Linked DNA regions of Homo sapiens. The protein of the gene in region 1 interacts with the protein of each later gene in a pairwise test. Each region holds a gene or a part of one and is shown on either strand. Other genes may lie near its edges. The genes, in order: FCF1 and BCCIP.

Evidence for each region.
Region 2: the proteins of FCF1 (region 1) and BCCIP interact in binary tests that used the Homo sapiens proteins (3 or more experiments, as listed by UniProt).

The regions. Positions count from the first base shown.
Region 1 is NC_000014.9:74,719,607-74,735,955, forward strand, and holds part of FCF1 (rRNA-processing protein FCF1 homolog), read left to right. Parts: intron 1-3,665; coding exon 3,666-3,738; intron 3,739-13,124; coding exon 13,125-13,212; intron 13,213-14,469; coding exon 14,470-14,564; intron 14,565-15,275; coding exon 15,276-15,324; 3' UTR 15,325-16,349. UniProt on the Homo sapiens protein: Part of the small subunit (SSU) processome, first precursor of the small eukaryotic ribosomal subunit.
Region 2 is NC_000010.11:125,823,830-125,834,742, forward strand, and holds part of BCCIP (BRCA2 and CDKN1A-interacting protein), read left to right. Parts: intron 1-2,761; coding exon 2,762-2,836; intron 2,837-3,728; coding exon 3,729-3,809; intron 3,810-6,732; coding exon 6,733-6,822; intron 6,823-7,590; coding exon 7,591-7,778; intron 7,779-9,942; coding exon 9,943-10,117; intron 10,118-10,913. UniProt on the Homo sapiens protein: During interphase, required for microtubule organizing and anchoring activities. During mitosis, required for the organization and stabilization of the spindle pole.

The DNA.
Region 1 (16,349 bases):
CCACAAAAATTAGCTGAGCATGGTGGAGCATGTCTATGGTCCCAGCTGCTTGGGAGGCTGAGGTGGGAGGATCACTTAAGCCTGGGAGGTCGAGGCTGCACTGAGCTATGTCCATGTCACTGCCCTCCAGCCTGGGTGACGGAACAAGAACCTGTCTCAAAAGGGGGAAAAAAAGGAAGTTGCTTATAATGCATTTCCTCAAAGGAGCAATTATAAAAATTCATAAATCTGTGTGAGATGGAGGGTTACTTTTATTTATTAATGAAAATGGCCTGTAATCCCAGCACTTTGGGAGGCCGAAGCACGCGGACTACCTGAGGTCTGGAGTTCAAGACCAGCATGGCCAACATGGCAAAACTCTGTCTCTACTAAAAATCCAAAAAAAATTAGCCGGGCGTGGTGGCAGGTCCCTATAATTCCAGCTACTCGGGAGGCTGATGCAGGAAAATCGCTTGAACCCCAGAGGCAGAAATTGCAGTGAGCCAAGATCGTGCCATTGCAAGAGCGAAACTCCGTCTCAAAAAAATAAAAAAAGAAAATGGATCCTGTATTATTTTTTGCTTTATAAAACAGATTTACTGAAATATAATTGACTCCCTTTACAACTATACAATTCATCCCTTTAAAGTGTACAGTTCAGTGACTTCTAGTGGATTCACAGAGTTGTGCATCATCCATCACCATAGTCAATTTTAGAACTTCCATTATCCCAGGAAGAAACCTGGAGACCCTTAGCCATCACCCTGCAACCCTCACCATTCTCTCTATTTCTAGGCAACCACTAATCTACTTTCTGTTTCTATAAATTTCCCTATTCTGGACATTTCATAAAAATAGAATCTTATAATATTTGGTCCTTTTTCATTTAACGTACTGTTTTCAAGGATCATTTATATTACAGTTTGTATCAGTACTTCATTTCTTTTTATTACTAAATAATATTCCACTGTATGGATAGATCACATTTTAATCATTTCTACTTGCTTTTTACATTGAACTATATATTTTGAACATTTTTCCATGGCATGTATATATAAATGGGCCTCATTCTTTTATTTTGAGTCAAGGTCTTGCTATGTCATCCAAGCTGGAATGCAGTGGTCTGAGCCAATAGCTTACAGCAGCCTCAACCTCCAGGTCTCAAGTGATCCTGCAGCCACAGCCTCCCAAGTAGCTGAGACTACTGGAAAGAGCCACCATGCCTGGCTATTTTATTTATTTATGTTTTGTAGAAACAAGGTATCAATCATGTTGCCCAAGTTTTTGGGGTTTGTTTTTTTTTTTTTTTTTGAGACAGGCTGTCACTCTGTCACCCAGGCTGGAGTGCAGTGGTGTAATCTCAGCTCACTACAGCCTCTGCCTCCCGGGTTCAAGCAATTCTCATGCCTCAGCCTCCCAGTAGCCGGGATTGCAGGTGTGTTCCACCACACCCACCTAATTTTTTTTTTTTTTTTTTGAGACAGAGCCTCACTCTGTTACCCGGGTTGGAGTGCAGTGGTGCAATATCGGCTCACTGCAACCTCTGCCTCCAGGCTTCAAGTGATTCTCCTGCCTCAGCCTCCTGAGTATCTGGGACTACAGGCATGTGCCACCACGCCCAGCTAATTTTTTTGTATTTTTAGTAGAGATGAGGTTTCACCATGTTGACCAGACTGGTCTTGAACTCCTGACCTCAGGTGACCTGCCTGCCTTGGCCTCCCAAAGTGCTGAGATTACGGGCATGAGCCACCACACCCAGCCCTAATTTTTATATTTTTAGTAGAGATGGGGTTTTGCCATGTTGGCCAGGAATTCTTTTTTAAAGTTATGTATGGCCGGGCACGGTGGCTCACGCCTATAATCCCATCATTTTGGGAGTTCGAGGCAGGTGGATTGCTTCAGGTCAGGAGTTCGAAACCAGCCTGACCAACATGGTGAAACCTTGTCTTTACTAAAACTACAAAAATTAGCTGGGCGTGGTGGAGGGCGCCTGTAATCCCAGCTACTTGGGAGGCTGAGGCAGGAGAATCGCTTGAACCTGGGAGGCAGAGATTACGCCACTGCACTCCAGCCTGGGCAACAAAGTGAGACTTCAAAAAAAAATAAAGAATGAATAAAGTTACATACTATAATTGCTTCTCAGCCTTTTGGCTAAGATCAGGTGTAAAGTTACATACTATTCTATTGTTTAAATACATAATTTTTTAAACCCAGTATCTTATTAGGTATTTTGGTTATTTCCAGGTTCTACCCAATTAACAAGTCTGTAGTAAATATCCTTATGAATATGTCTCCCTAAGAGTGTATTTCTTTAGGATACATTGTCTGGAAGCTGTATTATGTATCAAGGGATTTGTGTATTTTTAATAGGTATTGCAAATTTGCCCTCAAATAGTTGTACCAATGTATATACCTACAAACTTAGTATGAGAATACTTGTTTCCTCAATATTGGGTATTTTCTTTTTTTTTTTTTTTTTTGAGATGGAGTTTCACTCTTGTCACTCAGGCTAGAGTGCAATGGCACGATCTTGGCTCATTGCAACCTCCATCTGCTGGGTTGAACTGATCCTCCTGCCTCAGCCTCCCAAGTAACTGGGATTACAGGTGCCCAACACCATGCCCAGCTATTTTTTTTATTTTTAGTAGAGACGGGTTTCACCATGTTGGCCAGGCTGGTCTCGAACTCCTGACCTCAGGTGATCCGCCTGCCTCAGCCTCCCAAAGTGCTGGGATTATAGGCGTGAGCCACTACGCCCGGCCAATATTGGATATTTTCATCTGTTTAATCTTTGCCACTCTTCTAGGTGCCACTCTTCCCAGTCTTTGGCCCAATAGACTCCGTTCAAATGTTGGCTTTACCATTTGCTATCTATTTAGTTAACTTCTTTGTGTCTCAGGTTCCTCACCTATAAAATAGGGATGATGATTTTTTTTTAAACTATTATATGGCTTTCTGTTTGATAGTTGTCAAACAGAAGTTTTTAAAATTTTTATGTGATCAGATTTACATTATCTGGCTAATTTCATGGTTTCTTGTGGTTCACATTTAAATTTTATTTCATCTGAGCCAGGCACAGTGGCTCACACCTGTAATCCCAGCACTTTGGGAGCCCAAGACAGGAGGAATGATTGATCCCAGGAGTTCAAGACAGCCTGGGCAACATGGCAAAGCCCCATCTCTACAAAAAAAAAATGTTTTTTTTTAATTAGCTGGGCATAGTGGTGCGTACCTGTGGTCCTCGCTACTCGGGAGGCTGAGGTGGGAGAATCATTAGAACCCAGGAGGATAACTAGAACCCAGGAGTTTGAGGCTGCAGTGAGTTGAGATCGTGCCACTGCGCTCCAGCCTGGGCAACAGAGCAAGACTCTGTCTCAAAAAAATAATAAAAATAAATAATTTTTTTCCCATCAGGAACTTACATTAATATAAAAATAATGACAGAGTTCAGCTTAGTTTTTTTTCCCCAGATATGTTTATAACAGGGAATCTGCAGTTTGGGGTTGGGACAATCTTAGTTTCTTAGGGTTTTCTTCTACTCTAGTTCTTCTTGTATATTTCAGTGTGCTAATTCTGCTGTCATTGCAAAAGTGTCCTGGGTCTTTTTAAAACTCTGAGCAGGGATATAATTCAGAGATAATTTCGTTACAAGTTCTGTTCTTAATGTGAATTTTTTTCCCTGGCAGGTATCCCATGTATAACCGATTGTGTAATGGCTGAAATTGAGAAATTGGGGCAGAAGTATCGAGTGGCTCTAAGGTAGGAAGGAGGTAAACTAGATCTGTTCTAGATTGGTATACTGAAGATTCATCTGTTTGTTGTTTAAAGATTTCTTGGCCAGTTAGTTGTGAAAATCATACAAAACTATTTATCATTTTTGGGGGGGTTGTTTTGGTCTTTCTCTCACACAAAAATCAGTTCCAGTTAGAGTGTCTAAACTTTTAATAGAAAATACAGAGAATATCTTGTCCGGGCTCGGTGGCCTGTAATCCCAGCACTTTGGGAGGCCGAGGCAGGCAGATCACCTGAGGTCAGGAGTCCGAGACCAGCCTGACCAACATGGAGAAACCCTATCTCTTCTAAAAATACAAAATTAGCCGGCTGTGGTGGCAGGTGCCTGTAATCCCAGCTACTTGGGAGGCTTAAGCAGGAGAATCGCTTGAACCTAGGAGGCGGAGGTTGCAGTGAGCCTACATCACGCCATTGCACTCCAGCCTGGGCAACAAGAGCAAAACTCTGTCTCAAAAAAAAAAAAAAAGAGAAAATACAGAGAATATCTTAATGAAATTGAATATTTGTGTATAGCAAAAGATATCATTAACAAAGTAAACAGACATACATAATCAACAAAGGGCTTATTTTCAAAATGCATAAAGAACTTCACATCTGTAAGAAAAACATAATTCTTAAATTCACAGTGAGTTGTCATTTAGTGCCCATTAGATTGGCAAAAATTTTTTAATGAGCTTGACAATGCCAAGAATAGTTAAGACCATGAAGCAATGGGAATTCTCATACTGAACTACTAAGGGTATAAATTGGTCATCACTTTGGAGGGCAACTTGACAATATCTGGTAAAATCCAGGTTGTTCATACTCTTACAACACAGTCTTTTAACCTGGAGATCACATTCTACAGGTAATTAAATTGGTTTAAAGGATCACAATGCCTGGTGGGTTTGGGGGGTTTTTTGTGTTTTGTTTTGTTCTGTTTTTGAAGCAAGGTGTTGCTCTGTCACCCAGGCTGGAGTGCAGTGGCACAATCAGGGCTCACTGCAGCCTCGACCTCCTGGGCTTAAGCAGTCCTCCTGCCTCAGCACCCTCAAGTAGCTGGGACTACAGGCATGCAACACCTCACATGGCCAGTTTTTTAAAATTTCAGTAGAGATGAGGTCTCACCATGTTGCCCAGGCTAGTCTTGAACTCCTGGGCTCAAGTGATCCTCCCACCTTGGCCTCTCAAAGTGCTGGGATTATAGGCATGAGCCACCACACCCAACCCCCGAGTATATTTTTTAGTGTAACAGAAGAAACTATAGGCTGGGCACGGTGGCTCATGCCTGTAATCCCAACACCTTGGGAGGCTGAGGCAAGTGGATTGTTTCAGCCTAGGATTTCCAGTCCAGCCTGGGCATCATGGTGAAACCCTGTCTCCACAAAAAGTAAAAAAATTAACCAGGTGTGGTGGCATACACCTGTAGTCTCAGCTATTCGGGAGGCTGAGGTGGGAAGATTGCTTGAGCCCAGGAGGCAGAGGTAGCAGTGAGCTGAGATGGTGCCACTGCACTTTAGCCTGGGTGATAGAGTGAGACTCTGTCTCAAAAAAAAAAGAAAGAAATTATAAAATATTAGCATGAATATGTAGAAAAAATTGGGTACTGCTTCACAAAACTTTTTTCGCTGTTATATGTGTGTATATGTATATGTGGTATATGTGTGCATACTGTACGCTAGATAAAATCTATCTCGTGCTATGGGTTCTGGTAAAAAAAAAAAGAAAGAAAAAGATTGCTATAGAGAAGTTCAGCTACTATTGGAGTCAAGTATTGGCATCTTCTTATGTACGTAATAGCAAAAAATTGCAGACAGCCAGAAGAAATGGCTTTTCTTAAGCCATAAAGGATGGCCAGGCATGGTGGCTCATGCCTGTAATCCCAGAACTTTGGGAGGCCGAGGCAGGCAGATCATTTGAGGTCAGGAGTGATCCTCAACATGGTGAAACCCTGTCTCTACTAAAATATGAAAATTAGCCAGGCATGGTGGCGGGTGCCCATATTCCCAGCTACTCTGGAGGCTGAGGCAGGAGAATCATTTGAGCCCAGGAGGCGGAGGTTTCAGTGAGCTGAGGTCATGCCACTGTACTCCAGCCTGGGCTACAAAGCAAGACCCTGTCTCCAAAAAAAAAAAAAAAAAAAAAAAAAAAAACTGGGTACAGAAGCTCACGTATAATTCCCAACACTTCGTGAGGCCAAGTGGGGAGGATCGCTGGAGCCCAGGAGTTTGAGACCAGCCTGGCCAACATAATGAGACCCTGGCTCTACAAAACTTTAAAAATTTGCCGGGCGGCCAGCCAGGCGCAGTGGCTCACGCCTGTAATCCCAGCACTTTGGGAGGCCGAGGCGGGTGGATCACGAGGTCAGGAGATCGAGACCATCCTGGCTAACACGGTGAAACCCTGTCTCTACTAAAAATACAAAAAAATTAGCCAAGCGTGGTAGTGGGCGCCTGGTAGTCCCAGCTGCTGGGGAGGCTGAGGCAGGAGAATAGCATGAACCCGGGAGGCGGAGCTTGCAGTGAGCCGAGATCGCGCCACTGCACTCCAGCCTGGGTGACAGAGCGAGACTCCATCTCAAAAAAAAAAAAAAGAAAATTAGCCAGGCATGGTGGCTTGTGCCTCTACGGAGTTCAAGGTTGCAGTGAGCTATGATCACACCACTCCACTCCAGCCCCAAAAACAAAGTGAGACCTTGTCTCTTTAAAAAAGAAAGAAAAGAATAGATAAGCTGTGGAATGCTCATGAATAAAATACTATACAAGAGTGAAGATGAGTGAACTAGAGTTATGCGCCAATGTGGATAAATCTCAAAAACAATATAAACTATAAAAAAAAAACAACAGCAGTCAGGCACTGTGGCTCACTCCTGTAATCCCAGCAGTATTGGGAGCCCGAAGCAGGAGGATTCCTTGAGCCCAGGAGTTTGAGACCAGCCTGGGCAACATAGTGAGACCCAATGTCTATGAAACATTTTAAAATTAGCCAGGCATGGTGGCATGTACTTGTATTCCCAGCTACTTGGGAGGCTGAGGTAGGAGGATTGCTTGAGCCAGGGAGGTTCGAGATCATACCACTGCATTCTAGCCTGGGAGACAGCGAGACCCTGTCTCAAAAAAAAAGAAAAAGAACAATGCTGAGCACTGTTAACGCACATCTGTAGTTCCAGTTACTTGGGAGGCTGAGGCAGAAGGATCACCTGAGCCTAGGAGTTTCAAGCCAGCCTGGACAACAAGACCCCCATCTCTTTTTTTTTTTTTTTATTATACTTTAAGTTTTAGGGTACATGTGCACAATGTGCAGGTTAGTTACATATGTATACATGTGCCATGCTGGTGCGCTGCACCCACTAACTCGTCATCTAGCATTAGGTATATCTCGCAATGCTATCCCTCCCTCCTCCCCCCACCCCACAACAGGCCCCAGAGTGTGATGTTCCCCTTCCTGTGTCCATGTGTTCTCATTGTTCAGTTCCCACCTATGAGTGAGAATATGCGGTGTTTGGTTTTTTGTTCTTGTGATAGTTTACTGAGAATGATGATTTCCAATTTCATCCATGTCCCTACAAAGGACGTGAACTCATCATTTTTTATGGCTGCATAGTATTCCATGGTGTATATGTGCCACATTTTCTTAATCCAGTCTATCATTGTTGGACATTTGGGTTGGTTCCAAGTCTTTACTATTGTGAATAATGCCACAATAAACATACATGTGCATGTGCCTTTATAGCAGCATGATTTATAGTCCTTTGGGTATATATCCAGTAATGGGATGGCTGGGTCAAATGGTATTTCTAGTTCTAGATCCCTGAGGAATCACCACACTGACTTCCACAATGGTTGAACTAGTTTACAGTCCTGCCAACAGTGTAAAAGTGTTCCTATTTCTCCACATCCTCTCCAGCACCTGTTGTTTCCTGACTTTTTAATGATTGCCATTCTAACTGGTGTGAGATGGTATCTCATTGTGGTTTTGATTTGCATTTCTCTGATGGCCAGTGATGGTGAGCATTTTTTCATGTGTTTTTTGGCTGCATAAATGTCTTCTTTTGAGTAGTGTCTGTTCATGTCCTTCGCCCACTTTTTGATGGGGTTGTTTGTTTTTTTCTTGTAAATTTGTTTGAGTTCATTGTAGATTCTGAATATTAGCCCTTTGTCAGATGAGTAGGTTGCGAAAATTTTCTCCCATTTTGTAGGTTGCCTGTTCACTCTGATGGTAGTTTCTTTTGCTGTGCAGAAGCTCTTGAGTTTAATTAGATCCCATTTGTCAATTTTGGCTTTTGTTGCCATTGCTTTTGGTGTTTTAGACATGAAGTCCTTGCCCATGCCTATGTCCTGAATGGTAAAGCCTAGGTTTTCTTTTAGGGTTTTTATGGTTTTAGGTCTAACGTTTAAGTCTTTAATCCATCTTGAATTGATTTTTGTATAAAGTGTAAGAAAGGGATCCAGTTTCAGCTTTCTACATATGGCTAGCCAGTTTTCCCAGCACCATTTATTAAATAGGGAATCCTTTCCCCATTGCTTTTCTCAGGTTTGTCAAAGATCAGATAGTTGTAGATATGCGGCGTTATTTCTGAGGGCTCTGTTCCGTTTCATTGATCTATATTTCTGTTTTGGTACCAGTACCATGCTGTTTTGGTTACTGTAGCCTTGTAGTATAGTTTGAAGTCAGGTAGTGTGATGCCTCCAGCTTTGTTCTTTTGGCTTAGGATTGACTTGGCGATGTGGGCTCTTTTTTGGCTCCATATGAACTTTAAAGTAGTTTTTTCCAATTATGTGAAGAAAGTCATTGGTAGCTTGATGGGGATGGTATTGAATCTATAAATTACCTTGGGCAGTATGGCCATTTTCACGATATTGATTCTTCCTATCCATGAGCATGGAATGTTCTTCCATTTGTTTGTGTCCTCTTTTATTTCATTGAGCAGTGGTTTGTAATTCTCCTTGAAGAGGTCCTTCACATCCCTTGTAAGTTGGATTCCTAGGTATTTTATTCTCTTTGAAGCAATTGTGAATGGGAGTTCACTCATGATTTGGCTCTCTGTTTGTCTGTTGTTGGTGTATAAGAATGCTTGTGATTTTTTACATTGATTTTGTATCCTGAGACTTTGCTGAAGTTGCTTATCAGCTTAAGGAGATTTTGGGCTGAGACAATGGGGTTTTCTAGATATACAATCATGTCGTCTGCAAACGGACAATTTGACTTCCTCTTTTCCTAATTGAATACCCTTTATTTCCTTCTCCTGCCTAATTGCCCTGGCCAGAACTTCCAACACTATGTTGAATAGGAGTGGTGAGAGAGGGCATCCCTGTCTTGTGCCAGTTTTCAAAGGGAATGCTGCCAGTTTTTGCCCATTCAGTATGATATTGGCTATGGGTTTGTCATAGATAGCTCTTATTATTTTGAAATACGTCCCATCAATACCTAATTTATTGAGAGTTTTTAGCATGAAGCGATGTTGACTTTTGCCAAAGGCCTTTTCTGCATCTATTGAGATAATCATGTGGTTTTTGTCTTTGGTTCTGTTTATATGCTGGATTACATTTATTGATTTGCATATATTGAACCAGCCTTGCATCCCAGGGATGAAGCCCACTTGATCATGGTGGATAAGCTTTTTGATGTGCTGCTGGATTTGATTTTCCCGTATTTTATTGAGGATTTTTGCATCAGTGTTCATCAAGGATATTGGTCTAAAATTCTCTTTTTTGGTTGTGTCTCTGCCCGGCTTTGGTATCAGGATGATGCTGGCCTCATAAAATGAGTTAGGGAGTATTCCCTCTTTTTCTGTTGATTGGAATAGTTTCAGAAGGAATGGTACCAGTTCCTCCTTGTACCTGTGGTAGAATTCGGCTGTGAATCCATCTGGTCCTGGACTCTTTTTGGTTGGTAAGCTATTGATTATTGCCACAATTTCAGCTCCTGTTATTGGTCTATTCAGAGATTCAACTTCTTCCTGGTTTAGTCTTGGGAGAGTGTATGTGTCGAGGAATTTATCCATTTCTTCTAGATTTTCTAGTTTATTTGCGTAGAGGTGTTTGTAGTATTCTCTGATGGTAGTTTGTATTTCTGTGGGATCGGTGATGATATCCCCTTTATCATTTTTTATTGCGTCTATTTGATTCTTCTGTCTTTTTTTCTTTATTAGTCTTGGTAGCGGTTTATCAGTTTTGTTGATCGTTTCAAAAAACCAGCTCCTGGATTCATTAATTTTTTGAAGGGTTTTTTGTGTCTCTATTTCCTTCAGTCCTGCTCTGATTTTAGTTATTTCTTGACTTCTGCTAGCTTTTGAATGCGTTTGCTCTTGTTTTTCTAGTTCTTTTAATTGTGATGTTAGGGTGTCAATTTTCGATCTTTCCTGCTTTCTCTTGTGGGCATTTAGTGCTATAAATTTCCCTCTACACACTGCTTTGAATGCGTCCCAGAGATTCTGGTATGTTGTGTCTTTGTTCTCGTTGGTTTCAAAGAACATATTTATTTCTGCCTTCATTTCGTTATGTACCCAGTAGTCATTCAGGAGCAGGTTGTTCAGTTTCCATGTAGTTGTGCGGTTTTGAGTGAGATTCTTAATCCTGAGTTCTAGTTTGATTGCACTGTGGTCTGAGAGACAGTTTGTTATAATTTCTGTTCTTTTATATTTGCTGAGGAGAGCTTTACTTCCAAGTATGTGGTCAATTTTGGAATAGGTGTGGTGTGGTGCTGAAAAAAATGTATATTCTGTTGATTTGGGGTGGAGAGTTCTGTAGATGTCTATGAAAAAGCAAGAACATATGTGGAGTATACCATTTATCTAAAGTCTAAAAACATGCAAACCAATACTGCATTGTTTATAGATATGTGTATATGCTTTTTTTTTTTTTTTTTTTTTTTAAAGACAGATTCTCACTCTGTCGCCCAGGCTGGAGTGCAGTGATGCTATCACAGCTCACTGCAGCCTTGACCTCTCCGGCTCAAGTGATCCTCCTGCTTTGGCCTCCCAAGTAGCTGGGACTACAGGTGCATACCACTATGCATGTCTGATTATTTTTTTTCTTTTGCATGGCTAATTTTAAAAAAAAATTTTTTTGGTAGAGACTGGGCATGGTGGTTCACGTCTGTAATCCTGGCACTTAGGAAGGCTGTGGCGGGCAGATCACCTGAGGCTAGGAGTTCAAGACCAGTCTGACCAATGTGGTGAAACCTCATCTCTGCTAAAAATACAAAAATTAGCTGGGGGTGGTGGCAGGCACCTATAATCCCAGCTACTAGGGATGCTGAGGCAGGAGAATTGCTTGAGGCTGGGAGGCAGAGGCTGCAATGAGCCAAGATCATGCCACTGCATCCAGCCTAGGCAACAGAGCAAGACTCCATCTCAAAAAGGCTGGGTGCAGTGGCTAACGCCTGTAATCCTAGCACTTTGGGAGGCTGAGGTAGGCAGATCATCTGAGGTCGGGAGTTCTAGACCAGCCTGGCTAACATGGTGAAACCCCGTCTCTCCTAAAAATACAAAATTAGCTGGGCATGGTGGCGCATGCCTGTAATCCCAGCTACTCAGGAGGCTGAAGCAGGAGAATCGCTTGAACCCGGGAGCAGAGGTTGCAGTGAGCTGGGATTGTGCCAATGCACTCCAGTCTGGGTGACAGAATGAGACCCCATCTCCAAAAAAAAAAAAAATTTAGTAGAGATAGGGTCTCACTATGTTGCCCAGCTGGTCTCAAACTCCTGGCCTCAAGTGATCTTCCTGCTTTGGCCTCCTAAAGTGCTGGGATTGTAGTCATGATCCTCCACACCCAGCCTGGTAATTTTTAAAACAATAAAAATAAAGAATGAGAGGGGAAAAAATAGAGGCACCAAGTGGAAACACTAAGTTTGGCTGTCAAGAGATGCAGAAATGGGGTGTTAGCTGGAGGGGGGTATAGGTAAAAAGATTTTTTTGTCTTAAGGCAGAGAATATATGACAGCATGTTAGTATGTTTCTAGGAAAGAGCTAGTAGAGAGGAGACAAGTGATTTCAGGAGTAAAGAGATAACTGAAAGAGCATAGTCCTAGACTGTTGCCCACCTAGTTTGTCAGCAACCAGTCCATCCTCCCTCTAGTGTATCCTCCCCAGCACAGCCTGCTTAGTTTTTCCAAGACAGAGCTTTGTTCTTATCACTTTGTCCCCCAGAAATCTTTAATGACTCCTCATTACCTGTGTCATCACACTCGTCAGCCTGGCATTGGAGACTCTTTCTAGCCCCATTTCATTCTTCTCTCCACAAACACTCTGCCCCCAGCCAGAAAGATGTGTTTACTCTTCCCCAAATACCAAGAAACCATTTTACAGTTGGCTGGTGTCCTATTTGGTACCCTCACATTGCTTGGCACATTCTTTAATCTTATTTCACCCCATGTCATTTTTTTCTAAATATTCCCAACCCACATTGACCTAGCGCTGAACTACTGCAATATGGAGGAGTATTTGTGTTGCACTTGGTACATATGTGCTGTCTTGTATTTTTCTTCATTTCAGTGACTCATCATCACTGTTAATAGAAAGAGCATGGCTCTCAGAATCACACAGAGTTGGGGTTTTTCTTTTTCAAATATGTATGAAAATAATACATGTTTGAGTGTTTTATGGCAAACAATACAAGCATATACATATAGTAAAAGGTAAAAGTCTGCCTCTACATTCATACTTTGTCCATTCTCATACCCCAAGAGTGACAACTGACAAAGGTTAATATATTTTTTCAGACCTTTTTCTGTGCAAATGCAAATCTAAATAAAGAGTATTGGAAAGAAGGATTTGTATTTTATTAATTAAATCATATTATATATATATATATGCATATGCCCTGCTTTGTTTATTCAACAGTTTAGTGTAGGTCCTTCCACATTGGTACGTACAGCTCTACCTCACTTTTTATTAATAGGATAAGGGCACCAAAATGGGTTTAACTTTTACCTTTCTAAAGGATATTTTTATTTTCTTCACTTACTATAAACTGTGTTGAGTGATCATCCTTCTGCCTATATTCTTGTTCATTGTGTTTAAGACAACTTCTTAAAAGTGAAATGGTTAGGTTAAAATGGGTTTTGTTTTTGAATCCTGGCTTTTCCCAGCTGTATAGCTTTGAATGAAGTAATTTAATCTCTCTAAGCCTACTTCCTCATCTGTAGAATAGATATATAATAACTCAAAGTTTTGTAATGATTAAATGACCCAAAGCACACTAGCTGTCAGCCTTCATTCCCTGCCCCGTGAATTGTCTTTCCAGTTAGAGGATAAAGTTCAGGAGGAGAACAGTGCCTTAAAATCTCTGCATAGATCATGTTACTTTTATTGCATTAATTAAGACTCAGAAAGTTATCCAGCTGATTGAATGTTTTCTTTAATCCACCTACAGGATTGCCAAGGATCCAAGATTTGAACGATTACCATGTACACACAAAGGAACCTATGCAGATGACTGCTTAGTACAGAGAGTAACTCAGGTATTATCAGTTCATAACTGTTTACTTTGTGCTTAAAAAAAAAAAATGTAAACTATTATCTCCTGAATGTTCATGGTCAGTAAAACATCTAGGAATATACATTATGGTTAAATTAAAAAAAAATTGCATAGCATTCCTTCATAAGAAGCATAGGTGTCTTCATTTACTTGAGAAAGTGGATTGAAAATGTACACTCTAACCATAATGGAAAGAGCACAGGCTTGGGGAGGAGACATGGGTTTCACGTCTCAGCACCTGCATTTACTGGCTGTGTGATTTGGGACATTTAACTGATTCTTTATCTCACAAATCTCTGTAAAATGATTTTAAGTGAGTTAATGTAGAACCCATTTATTTTTGATGTAGGAATTTTGTTCCTCTTCACGATGCCTAATCCAAAAGTGCTTCTTAGTTAAATCTGAGAGTCTCCCAAGATGCTGTTTCACACATACCCTAGAATAAGTAGGTTTTTAATTCCTTCATTAAGCACCACAAGGACTTCTGCTACTGAGTGCTTTTATAAGGGCCTCTCTGCTGATGATAATCTTCATCTGCTCTGCTGACCACAGAGCCATCCTTTTAGCCACTTCACCCCATGGGGCGGGTGGGTGGGGCCAGTATTTCCCACAGCACAGCTGACACCACTCTGCCACTTTTTATAAAACTCAGTAGGAGAGTCAGACGTGACAGATGTGAAGCTTCCTATAAAATAGCTTTCACCTGACAGCTAAATATTACTGCTTTTATAACTGCTAGGCTCTAGTTTCAGGCCCTGAATATCCTACTTAGGCTTCCTGTTTCGGGGATAGCTTACCTCTAACATCAGTAGGCCCAGAGCACACCCAAGCCCCAAGATCTAGGGAAAGGAGGGAGCTATGGCCTCCAAATTAAGGCACTTTTTATCTCCATGGAGTTCCTCGGAGCATTTTCCCAAAACTAAAGAATTGTCTGCCCCAAGTGTGAAAGTCCCTTTCATTTATGAGCAGAAAACAGTTTGCAGCTTGTGAAAAGTTTTCTACCTTCTCCTCCTCAAGATTCTAAATGCTGCATTCAGCCCAGGCAACTTGTTTATTTTATATAACAAGATTAGGAGCTCCTAGATCATAGTAGGTACTCAACAAATTGTTATAGCCTGCCCTTCGCTACTTACTGTGAAAATGAACGATTCTCAGACTGGTCAGTCGTTGTGCCATTATCCAGTATTCACTAAGCGTGCTCAGTGACCTCAGTGTGAACATCACTCCATGTCTCTTACAGCATAAGTGTTACATTGTGGCCACAGTTGACCGGGACCTGAAAAGAAGAATCCGTAAGATTCCTGGAGTTCCTATCATGTACATTTCTAACCATAGGTGAGAAATTTCCCTTGGAGAAGGGAATAGAAATATATAATTGATATCAATTGAAAATGAGGATAAGTGATAAGGTTATAAAGGATTTGAAAGAAATTATTGTATCAAATGTTTACATAGTTATATTTGAAGAAATGAGACAAAGCAAGAGCAAGAGCAAAAGAGAGAGATAGGATTTAAGGAATGAGGCAAACATTTAAATTGTTAGAGTAAGATTACTGGAAGAAATAGACGTATTGTTTTAAATAAAAGCAGTAATTTAAATCAAGCTAATCTTTTTGGCCAGAAATACCTGTTTTGAAAGATTTTTTTTTATTAACACTTCATCTGAGAAATGGAAAGCTTATTTAAAAAAAAAAAAAGCTGTTATCCTTCTTGGCTATTTTTTGTCAGTACTCAGACTTATTTTCCAGCTTTTCAGCTTGAGGAGAGCACAATGTGGTGGGAAGTCTGTGGACTAAGAAGTTGGACTTACTGATCTCAGCTCCTCAGTTCCCCTCTTGCTGACTTTGTGACTTTGAAAAAACAATCATATTGTATTATAGTCAGCATTTTGCTGTAAATCATTCATTATGATGTTCCCCTAAATTGTTTCCACTGACAAAAAGGATTCACAGTGGGGGTGAGAGTATTGCAGTCTATAAAGGATGGGTTTTTAGATGGGTTCTCTTCCCATCTTTCTTACCGGTGTTGATTTTTTGTCCTGATCAGATACAACATTGAACGGATGCCAGATGATTATGGAGCCCCTCGATTCTAATTCTTACAAGACACAGTTCCTCTGCCTTTCTTCGACCAACTTTCTCTTGTTGCCAGTTCATTACACAAAATGTAGCGGGATTTTTAAGGAATCAGAGAGACTGATGGAGTTCAGGGAGATATTTATTATTTAGGTGCACCAGCCCAGTCAGATTAACATCCAAAGGACTGAACCCTGAACAGAGTTAAGTTACCTTTTAAGCATTTTGTGGGGCCGCGGGGGTTGGGGGGAATCTGTGCAGGGGGAAGCATATTACAGAAGCAAGAAAGACAGTTATTCAATTAACTGAGACATGCATTACATCATTTCTTACTTTTCAAGGAAAATCATGTTTTACGACTTGAGTTTATCTGTCTAGTTACCTTGCAGCTGCACAGCTAGAGAAACAGGGTATTTACAATGCCTGGGAAAGGAGGAGAGATAAGGCTCACTAGCCACAGAAAAACAGGCAGTTAATTTTTAAAGGACTCCAGCTCTTTCTCTTTCTCACGGGGAATTGGATTTTCTTACATGCAACTGAATTTCTGCTTACACATTTTTAAATTTCTTTTAATTGCTTTTCCAATGCAATAGCATGAATTATTATTCTGTTGACCTATTTGCCTTACTATGAGCTGAGGGTAGTTCAATATGCTCACTCTTTTTTTTTTTTTTCTTGAGATGAAGTTTTGCTCTGTCACCAGGCTGGAGTGCAGTGGCGTGATCTGGGCTCACTGCAACCCCTGCCTCCCATCCTTCAAGTGATTCTCCTGCCTCAGCCTCCCGAGTAGCTGGGATTACAGGTACACACCACCATGCTCAACTAATTTTTCTTTTTTGGGCGGGGGGGGTGGATATTTTTAGTAGAGACAAATACTTTTGTATTTTTAATACAGAAAAGTATGCCTCGGCCTCCCAAAGTGCTGGAATTACAGACATGAGCCACTGTGCCTGGCCTGCTCACTTTCTGATGCTGCTTTTTTGTTGTTTGTTTGTTTATTTGTTTGTTTTGAGACGGAGTCTCGCTCTGTCACCAGGCTGGAGTG
Region 2 (10,913 bases), on another chromosome or scaffold:
GAGGAGAAACTGGAGATAAGTTCTTTCTCAGGTTTCTCCTCGGTCTTTAACACACTGCAGCCATAGTAGTTATTTTTTAAAGGTCTAGTCCGGTCCAGTTAATCTCCCAACCCGCGTCCTCCCCGAAAAAGCCCGCCACAACAGGTGTGTTCTTCTCGTCCTCTTTAGTTCTCAGGCTGAAGCCTCAGATCCTGAATCGGCCACCCCGGGCTCGCAGAGGGGGCCCTCTCCCCTCGGGGCAGCAGCTGTCCTCCTCTTCACTCTGCGGGCGGCACTCACTTGGGCCCTCAGTTTCTTGAAGGCTCTTGCCGCGTTCTACCGTAGAAGCCTTTTCAAATGCTCTTCTTTATCCTGCAGTTTTCCCTTCCTTCTTCAGATCTCAGCTAGGCTGTATTTTCTGGCTCCTGGGGCAGCTGACCAAGTCGTGGGTAAATCTTTGGTTTCATAGTCTCATAGAACTGTGTTCCTTTCTTCAGACTAGGTCCTACCGTAGTGCCTGGCAATATAGGTACTTATTATTTGTTTAGTAAACAATTAGGACTGAATGATCCTTCAGCCTACTGAATGTTTAAATAGATACCTCAGCCTTAACTTGTCCAAAGCAGAATTTGTATAATAATTCATGCCCCTCTCTTAATCGTCACCATTTCTATAAATGGCCCCTAAAGTCACCAGCTGCTCTAACCCAAAACCTGGGGCTTAACTTTAATTCCTCCCTTTCCTCATCCTATATCCAGCCCATCAGTAAATCCTGTTATCCAGACATTTCTCAGCACTAATTCTGAGACCATCGTAGTCCACACCTCTATCATCTCTTGCCTGGACTACTATTTAATGTAACAGCTTTTAACCGGCGTTCTTTTCTCCATTTTTGTTCCCCTACAATCAGTCTATACTCCACTTACAGTCAGAGAGATCTTATAGGTCTGATCTCAGGCCTCTGCTTAGATTGCTGCATTGGCTTTCTAGTTCATTTACAAGAAAATCAAGAGTCTTCACAATTGAGGGACGGAAAGGCAGCCTAGATGGCTGGATCAGAATAAGGAAGAGAGAGTGATAGGAAATAAAATCAGAGAGGTAATCATGAGTCATGATGAGCATGGAGGGGAGCATGGAGAGAAGCATGGATGCAGGATTAGAGGTGACACCATGGTGTGGGTATGTGATCAATCTTCCTTCCCTTACAAATTTTACTTTGGCTCTATGCCTTGAATGCCATCTCACCATTTTTCACTTAGAACTTTGACTGGCTCTTTTATTACTTTTGGGTTATAGAAATCAATGCTGCTTGTGTTAACATGGGAAATCTATCACACCACCACAGTCTTAATTCTAAATCACCTGGGAATGAGGGACAGGGCTCTTTTCTACAAACGTGACTGTTCCTGCTGAAGCCATGTGGAGATGAGCCCATACCCAGGAAAAGGGTGCTGGACAGATAATCCATTTGCCGCCCATTTCCCTGGTGGTGCCATAATAGTCTGGGACAGAGGTCCGAGATGTCTGTCTAGACAAAGAAAAAAACACTAGATGAGCATTATTTACAGAATGTATTTATATCTAAGGAATAAGTTTAAGTCCTGAATAATGACAGTTTGTTATTTGGTTTAGTTTGATCCTGTTTGGAACACTCCCACCCGACCCCTTGTGTTTTGCTGCTCACATAATCTGGCTAAGTTAGCATTTGAAGTCTGCAAAGCTGGACTTAAAGAGTTCAAATTGGAGCTGGAATTGCTCTAAGCAATTCCAGGGCCTTGCAATTTTACAATTAAGGAAGACTTAAATATATACATAGTCAGGGTGGCAAGGTAAAAGGAGGTCTGATTTCCTCTGCGATGTTCTTCAGCTAAGACCTAAATTCTGAAACCGTTAAAACCTGAAGTGCCTTTAAATATATTATTTCATCAGAGCCCCAGGTTCATTGTGTCACTTATCAAGGTCTGATTTAGGGTCCTCAAGGACTAATCTTGTTAGTGTTTAAAAGCAACTAGGTTTTGTTTTTGGCATTTTAGTTCCATCTTCTAGATTCTGTTGTCTTGCAGATAGAGATCAGGGAGCCCAGCTACACATTCATTCTTCTAGTCCCTTGTACTCATTGTATTTCCTTCTGCCTTAGGGCCTTAGTTTGTGCTGTTCCCTGTACCAGGAACTCTCTTTGCTGTTTCTCGGTTTCTTGCTCAAATGTCACTTCAAGGAAGGCTTTCCTGACTGACTTCTTATTTTTTAAGTTGTTACAACATTGTGTACCTTTGTTTTATAGCACTTACATTTATTTCTATGAATATTTCCTTAATGCCTATATTCCTTCCTAAATCGTAAGCTGCACGAGAGCAGGATCATTTGTGTCTGCCTTACTAACCTTTTCATCTTGAGTGCCTGGCACAGTGCTTGGTACCTGGATTGATACTTAATAAATATTTGCTAAGCAAATGTAGTGTAACCTCAAATCCATGGGCTAAGTCAAGCTCTAGGCAATTCCAGGGACTTTTGAAGTGATTTTGATTTTTGCCCACCCTTGTAATCAGGAAAATAATTTATCCTTTGTGGCTGCCGTGTCTGGTTTATTTGAACTGGACTTTCTCAACATTTAAACTAGGTTACTCTGAGTGTTTTGTTTTCTCAGGCTTTTGTGTCACCTGAAGAAATAGTGTGAAGGTGCTTTGTATTCTTCACAGATGGCAATCTTGGCAATGTTTGCCTGTTTTAAAGTCTAGATGTTTGTAGTTTTTCTGGTAACAACTATTTTGTGTGTTATTTACAGGAAGTGAATATTGAATTTGAAGCTTATTCCCTATCAGATAATGATTATGACGGAATTAAGAAATTACTGCAGCAGGTATTGTCTTTTATTTATTATGCATAAATTTCCTCTTCTAAGAAAAATCAGGGGCCGGGTGCAGTGGTTCATGCCTATAATCTCAGCATTTTGGAAGGCCGAGGTGAGAGGATTGCTTGAGCCCAGGAGTTTGAGACCAGCCTGGGCAACATAATGAGAACCTGTCTCTACAAAAAAATTAAAAATTAGCCAACTGTGGTAGCACACACCGTTAGTCCTAACTCCTCAGGAGGCTGAGGCTGGAGGATTACTTGAGTCTAAGAGCTCAAGGCTGCAGCTATGAATGTGCCATTGAGCTCCAGTCTGGGCAACAGAGTGAGCCTCTGTCTCTAAAAAAAAAGAAAATTCAGGTCATTCAATACAGGCTCTCCCAAGTTCATCTTTTTAGAATTTCCATTTCTATCCTCTCCACCTTGCCTGGAAGGAAGAATTATTTCCTTTCATCTGCTAATTAGAGTTATTTTGTTTTTTTTTTTAATTCACAATTCTTATGTAACAGTCATATAACTGTGCTGTTTGGTGCTATAAAATTGATGCTTGCTGCTTCTCCTTATTCTTTTACTCATATAATATGACTTTGGTTCTTTAGCCTTTATAGCTCTACCGTCTTTTTCACCAAATTCTTTGGCCTTAAGTTTATCCTCTCTCGTTTCTCCCTTTTTTCTCCCCCTCCCCCATTACTTCTATATTACTACTGACTTCTTCTTTTCTGAAATTTCCTAATCTTTAGCTTCTTTGACTCTCCTGGGCTTTTCTTTCCCTCTTGGGGTTGCTTTTCTAGATCATCATCTTAAGTCACAGAAATTTCATTGTTTGTATTTGAATATAGGATTTGAAGTTATTAGAAATCATGCTTTGATCTTAATTTAAAATAATTTTTTCCTCCTTTTAGCTTTTTCTAAAGGCTCCTGTGAACACTGCAGAACTAACAGATCTCTTAATTCAACAGAACCATATTGGGAGTGTGATTAAGGTAAGTAGGATAATTGTGTTTATTCTGATTAAATGAGTTCTTTATTCTGTTCATGCTGGGCCTCACCATGCTTGTAATCCCAGCACTTTGGGAAGCAAAGGTGGGAGGATTGCTTGAGGCCAGGAGTTCAAGACCATCCTGGGCAATATAGCAATACTCTGTCTCTACAAAAAATAACAAAAAATTAGCCGGGCATAGTAGCACATGCCTGTAGTCTTTTTACCCAGGTGGCTGAGGTAGGAGGATCTCTTGAGCCAAGAAGTTGAAGGCCATGGTGAGCTTTGTGCCGCTGCACTCTAGCCGGGCAACACAGCAAGACCCTATATCTGAAAAAAAAAAAAAAAAAAAAAAAAAGTTCTTTATTCTGTTTAGCTCAAATTGGAAGCAGTATTACTGGAGGAATGGAGACTGATCAGAAGTCATTGCAGAAATCCAAGCTTATTAAATGCAGTAGTCCAGGTGGGGGCAATGGAGAGGGAGAGAAGTGGGCTCATTTAGAAAATATTTGGGAGATGAAATATGATGAGGTTTAGTCCCTGATTGGGTCTGAAAGTGAGAGGAAAAGGAGTCAAGGATGACTTCCAGGTTTCTAGCTTGAGCAAACAGGATAACAAACATGGAGGAAGGTCAAATTAGGAGGGGGAATGTGAATTTGGATTTGTACATTTTGAGTTTGAGTTACCTGTGAGATACCGGGTAGCAGGTGGAGCCCTGGAGACTTGGGAGTTGGTCGTAAATGTTACTGAGGTCGTAGAAGTGATTGAGATTGCGCAGGGAGGGAAGGGACAGACACCTTAGTAATACCAAGAATACTTCGATGAGTAATATAAGTGGCAGAGCCAGCAAAGGAGATTAAAAGGGATGACAGGAGAAGTAGAAGAAACAATAGTGCAGTGATGTCATACACAGCAAGAAAGATAACATTTGAAGGAGGAGGGGATGGTCATCTTTATCAGATAGATGTTGTAGAGAGCTCAACAAAATAAGGACTGGTTTAGACCCTGGGTCTGCTGCTTATCATCTGGTGGTTCTTTGGGTTATCTGTTGTTTGTATAACAAACCACCCCATAGCTTAGTGTCGTAAAATAGCAGTAGTCATTTATTTGGCTAATGGATCTACAGTTTGGACAGAGCTCAGTGGGCACAACTCATCTGTGCTCCTGCTCCATCATGTTAGCTGGGGTGGCTTGACTAGGGGCTGGAGGATTCCCTTTCAAGATGGCTCACTCACATGACTGGCAAGTTAGCCCTAGCTGTCTGTCGGGAGCTTAGCTGGGACTCTGGACCAGGGGCCTTAGTTCTTCTCCATGTGGGCCTCGTCACACATTGGTTTGCTTCCAAGAGCAAGCTGCCCAAAAGAAGCAGGCAGAAGTGATATAGTGCCATTTCCACCATTTGCTTAGTCTTTACAGATAGAAATTTCTATCTAGGGGGAGGGCACATTGATCCCACCACTCCATGAGAAAAGTACCTAGGTCACTTTGTCAGAAGAGCATGTCCAAGGAGAGATCCATTGGGGCCATCTGTGAAAGATACAGTCTGCCACAGTACCTTAATCTGTTTCCATTTCTGTCTCTGAAAATGAGGATGGTACTAGCACCGATCTTGTAGAGTGCATGGGTAAACAAAATGAATTGCTGACTGCTTAAAACAGTGTCTGGCAGCTGACATGTGCTACATATGTGTAGCTGTCACTGTTGATGTCTTTTTCCTGTTCCTAGCACCTGTTCCCTAGCCTGTTGTGAAAAACACAACAAACAAAAGCTCCATTCAGTCTAATGTTCCACTCTTAAGTACATCACCTTCAGAGCCAAAATTCTTGAAAAGTAATCTTAAGTCATGGTTTCTACTTCCTGTCCTCCTATTCATTCTTCAGACACTCTTATCTGACTTTTACACCACTAAAATTCGGACACTGAGTGATAGGGTCACCAACATACTTGTTACTAAATACAGTGTACACTTTTCAAGGCTTCTGACAATATTAGTAACTTTATGGCACTCAATGTAAAGAAAATGAGAAATTAAACCTATGGGGCATTCCTTTTATTAGGGCAATGGGAAAAAGCAGACCACCTGCCCTTTCATCAAATAAATGTGATCTCTAGCTGATTCGTGTCTTAGAAGACCTAATGGATATGGAGGAGAAGCAGTTATTTTTATCCTTGAAAGAGGTTATTATCTAATGGCAGGATTCACTCTTTAAATGGATAATCACATCAATAGCTCTGCAGTTGTAACTGTGGCTTCTTGGGATTCTCCAGAGACACTTGAGGTGTCCTGAGGATAGAGACTTCTTGTTCTTAGTAAAGGGACTACCCATAGTGTTCGGTGGAGCCAGTCCCTAGGATCATAGAACAAAGGGCAGGGGGTTCTCTTTTTTCCCCTTCTCTCTTGCTAATGTGATAGGTGTAAGTGGCCCTCAAGCATTGCCTAGCTTCACTAATGGTCAAGACTGACAAGTGTTCTGGAAACTCATGAGTTTTAGATGAAACAATGCTGTGGGCCAGCAGAGAAGCAAGGCTTGGCTCCAGCCTAATTGTGTAGAAAACAAATGAAAATGCTTTATTTCATGAGGTTTATCTCTTCTGGATTTGTATTATATTGAGAATCTGATAAAAGAAAATGACTTAATCTGGTACAAAGAAATTTCAATCTGTTCAGAATCTGAAAAGAGGAACAGAGTCGAGGTAAAGCGAAATGAACAAGGTCACACAGTATTTAAGATACAATGCTTTCCAAGATGATGGTGGTAAAACTGTGACAGTATTTAAAATACAATGCTTTCTAAGATGGCGGTGGTAAAACAAAGTTTTGCTTTTGAAAAGTGAAAAGATAAATGAGGCCTACATCCCAAGACTTGGTTTTATACTCTTGGTATTATACTAAATATAACATTTAAATATTTTTTCTTTTAAAATAGCAAACGGATGTTTCAGAAGACAGCAATGATGATATGGATGAAGATGAGGTTTTTGGTTTCATAAGCCTTTTAAATTTAACTGAAAGAAAGGTTGGTTTCACTGGATGGCATCTGAATGGTTATTTCTTAGGCCAAAACCACTTTTATTTAATGCATGGTGAAAATGTCTTTTATGTTAAACAGTGATATTAACTATAGGGATAAGTGCTCTTGTGAAATCTTATTGTAATCCTTTTTCAATATGAAGGTGGTGGTGTTGGGTCTGTACCCAGTTAAAGTTGTTTACTCCCTGTGGTTTAGGGAATCATCTGGCTTTGCAGTCCTGATGTTGGTACTGATGCAGGAGCTGTTTGTGCTGTCTCTCTGCAGCTGTTATCTTTGCTACTTGTGTAGTGGGGATATTCTCAGGCTTTGCTGCCTCAATGTTGAGGGCATTTACTGACATTTTATTTTGTTTCGATTCATCTCTTTTTATTGATTCTCTGATGAGTTGTAATAAAAAGTAAACCAGCTGCTTACCCACCTCAGAATAAGATGCAGGCTACACTTAGTCTTTAATTTTGAAATAAACTGTCCAGTTACTTCCATCTATCTTTATGAGATGGACTAGAGTTGCCATTCCAGTGTGTCTGAATGTTAATTATGACTCTCTTACCACTCATCATGGGATGGTAAATAACCAGTGTATTTACTTTTGAGAAATGCTTAAGCAGTCAACACTGAAGACATACAAGACGTTAAGGCTATGGCAGGAAACTGCCCTTAGCTGTAAGATGAAAAGTGATAGCTTTTACTCTCAGGTTTTGTCCTCTATGTGATGGCTTGTAATAGGAAACAAGCTTTCTCTTTGCTTTCTAGGGTACCCAGTGTGTTGAACAAATTCAAGAGTTGGTTCTACGCTTCTGTGAGAAGAACTGTGAAAAGAGCATGGTTGAACAGCTGGACAAGTTTTTAAATGACACCACCAAGCCTGTGGGCCTTCTCCTAAGTGAAAGATTCATTAATGTCCCTCCACAGATCGCTCTGCCCATGTACCAGCAGCTTCAGTAAGAGATTCTGGGAAAATATCTTTGAACAGTAATTTTTTTTTCAAATAGATTCCTAAATGTCATTTAAGTAGAATATGTAGATATAGAAAGAGTTCTGTCCTTGGTTTAAGTGGGTTTAGTGTGAGGGGAGTGGAAGAAACATCCTGTGAAGTACATACATTATTAACAACTGGCTTTTTGAAGAGTTTGTGACAATAATCATGAAATTTTAACTTAAGATTTAAGTGATATATAAGTAGATAATTTCATATAGACTTTGCATCCCCATTTGATTGAAGTTTTTCACCTTCACAGATAGCTTTCTGCAACATGAATAAAATAATGAACAATTACAACAATAACAAAACTGGTAAAGTTCCCAAATTCTATTGGTATGTTTCATAACAAATGAAACCATAGTCCTGATACTGTGGCTAGCTTTTCAGGGTTTTTGTTATTCTATTTTTTAATCCAGAAGTTTTAAGTTTACAAAAATATTTCAAATGTAGCTGTGAAATCTAGCAAACTGAGTGTACTAAGAATTGTATTGTCTGTGCTTTGCAACAGAGGACAAAATATAGGCAGATTCTCTTATTTATTTCTATCTAATTTAAATTTTTTTTTTTTTTTGGTAGAGACAGGGTCTTGCTACATTGCCCAGGCTGGTCTTGAACTCCTAGGCTAAAGTGATCTTCCTGCCTCGGCCTCCCAGTGTTGGGATTACAGGTGTCAGTCACAGCACTTGACCTAGACAGGTTCTTTATAGAATATTCTTTCTCAGAGGTCATAGCCCTTGCGTTGTGGTTTTCCTTTAAATAGCTGTAGGAATGCAACTCTACTCTGGAAACCTTTACGTTTGCTGTTTTTTCCTAGGGATTCGATGCTTCTTATCTCCTGCTCCCTGCTCTCTCAGCTGTAGCTCAGATTGTGCTTCTGGTGCCTTAAGTGGTTTTTGTTTTTTTTTGGTTTTCTTTTTTTCTGATCAGCTGGAGCTCACATTTATTTGGTTTTATAGGAGGGTGATTTGCTTTCTCCTAGTCCTGTTAAAGCTGAAGTGAGCCAAGCGCAGTGGTGCACGCCTGTAGTCGCAGCTACTCAGGAGGCTGAGGCAGGGGGAATGCTTGAGGCCAGGAGTTCCAGGCTGCAATATACTATGATTGTGCCTGTGAATAGCCACTGCACGCCAGCCTGGGCAAAATTACAAGACCCTATCTTTTTTTTTTTCTTTTTTTTTTTTTGAAAAGGCCAGGTGTGGTGGCTGACACTTGTAATTCCAACACTTTGGGAGGCCGAAGCTGGCAGATCACTTGAGGCTAGGAGTTTGAGACCAGCCTGGCCAACATGGCGAAACCCCAATTCTACTAAAAATACACCCACAAAAAATTAGCCGGGTATGGTGGTGCAGACCTGTAATCCCAGCTACTCAGGAGGCTTAGGCACGAAAATCGTGTGAACCTGGCAGGCAGAGGTTGCAGTGAGCCGAGATTGTGCCATTGTACTCTACAGCCTGGGCAACAGAGTGAGATTTTGTCTCCAAACGAAAAAAAGAAAAAAAAAAAAAAGGAAAGCTGAAGAGGACGGTTGTTCTGAGTTTCTTCTTTTGTTCAAGGGCATCCAGATGCACAAGGCTATGTTTAATTTTCAGAAAGAAGAAACATTAAGGCTTTGTTGCGATTCCATTGCTAGAATTTAGGTTGTGTGTTTATGCAGTTTCTGCAGTATGTCAGAAATTAGTTCCAGACTCTAGCAATTAGAGACTGTGGTAGTAGTCACAGGCTGTAGTGACATTGGTTGTGGCTGTATACCTTTGTGTGTTTCAGTTAAATGTTCATTGCTTTAAAAAATTCAAAAATTCAGATTCGTATATATTTTTAACTTATGCACAGGCAGAGCAGTGATACATTGAGTGAATTTGAGACTCATCTGATCTGTTAGTTGCTATATATCCACAAATCAGCATAATCTGAGAGATATATCATAGTATTATAAAAAGTAATACATAATCTAAAATGCAACTGATTATGTAAATAAAAATCATTCCTGTAGACTAAGTGTTCAGATTGAATGCCTGCGTCACAGCAGAACCCACTGAAGATGCCTCACCGGGTTTTCTGTGCTCTGGTTTGTTGATGGATTTCACTTGACCCAGCAGGTAAACAAATGTTGTGTGTGTGCCTTGCAGGAAAGAACTGGCGGGGGCACACAGAACCAATAAGCCATGTGGGAAGTGCTACTTTTACCTTCTGATTAGTAAGACATTTGTGGAAGCAGGAAAAAACAATTCCAAAAAGAAACCTAGCAACAAAAAGAAAGCTGCGTTAATGTTTGCAAATGCAGAGGAAGAATTTTTCTATGAGGTAAGACTATCCTGCTTATTTGTTTAGATGTAAATAAGGATTTTCTTGAAAATGATTTATCAAGATTTATTGTTCTCCCACTTTAGGTCCAAGTCTTTCAAGTGTGGCTACTCTGTTTTTCTGTTTCCCCACAGGACCTAGCAGCTAACATAGTGCCAGGTGCATAGTAGGTACTCAGGAGGCTAGGCACCAGCCTCCTTGCCTGCACTGTGGTTATGAGCATGAGGAGGAGGAGGAGAAAAGTGATTAACCTGTTAAGAATGATTAGGCATTTATAATATGCTTCCTGTGAAATCTTTCATTCTAAAACCATGCGGAGAGGTAGACATTAGCCTGGGGTTTACAGATGTGGACTTTAAGGCATAGGGAAATGAGGGAAATTACCTGCGATCACACAGCTGGTCAGTGTGGAAGCTGGGGCACCCCTGCTGCTCTGTGTCCTTAGTCGTGGATGTCATCCTGCTGGTGGGATATCTCCAGCATTTTTTTCCTATAAAGGTAGCTTGTACTGTGATGGACAGCCATATACCAGAGAATATTCTTACCCTCTCTTCCTCTGAAAAATCTTGAAGTGGGCCAGGTGCGGTGGTGCACACCTGTAATCCCAGCACCTTGGGAAGCTGAGGCGGGCAGATCACCTGAGGCCAGAAATTCAAGACCAGCCTGGCCAACAGGGAGAAACCCCATCTCTACTAAAAATACAAAAAAAAAAAAATTAGCCGGGCATGGTGGCAGATGCCTGTAATCCCAGCTACTCGGAAGGCTAAGGCAGGAAAATTGCTTGAACCTGGGAGGC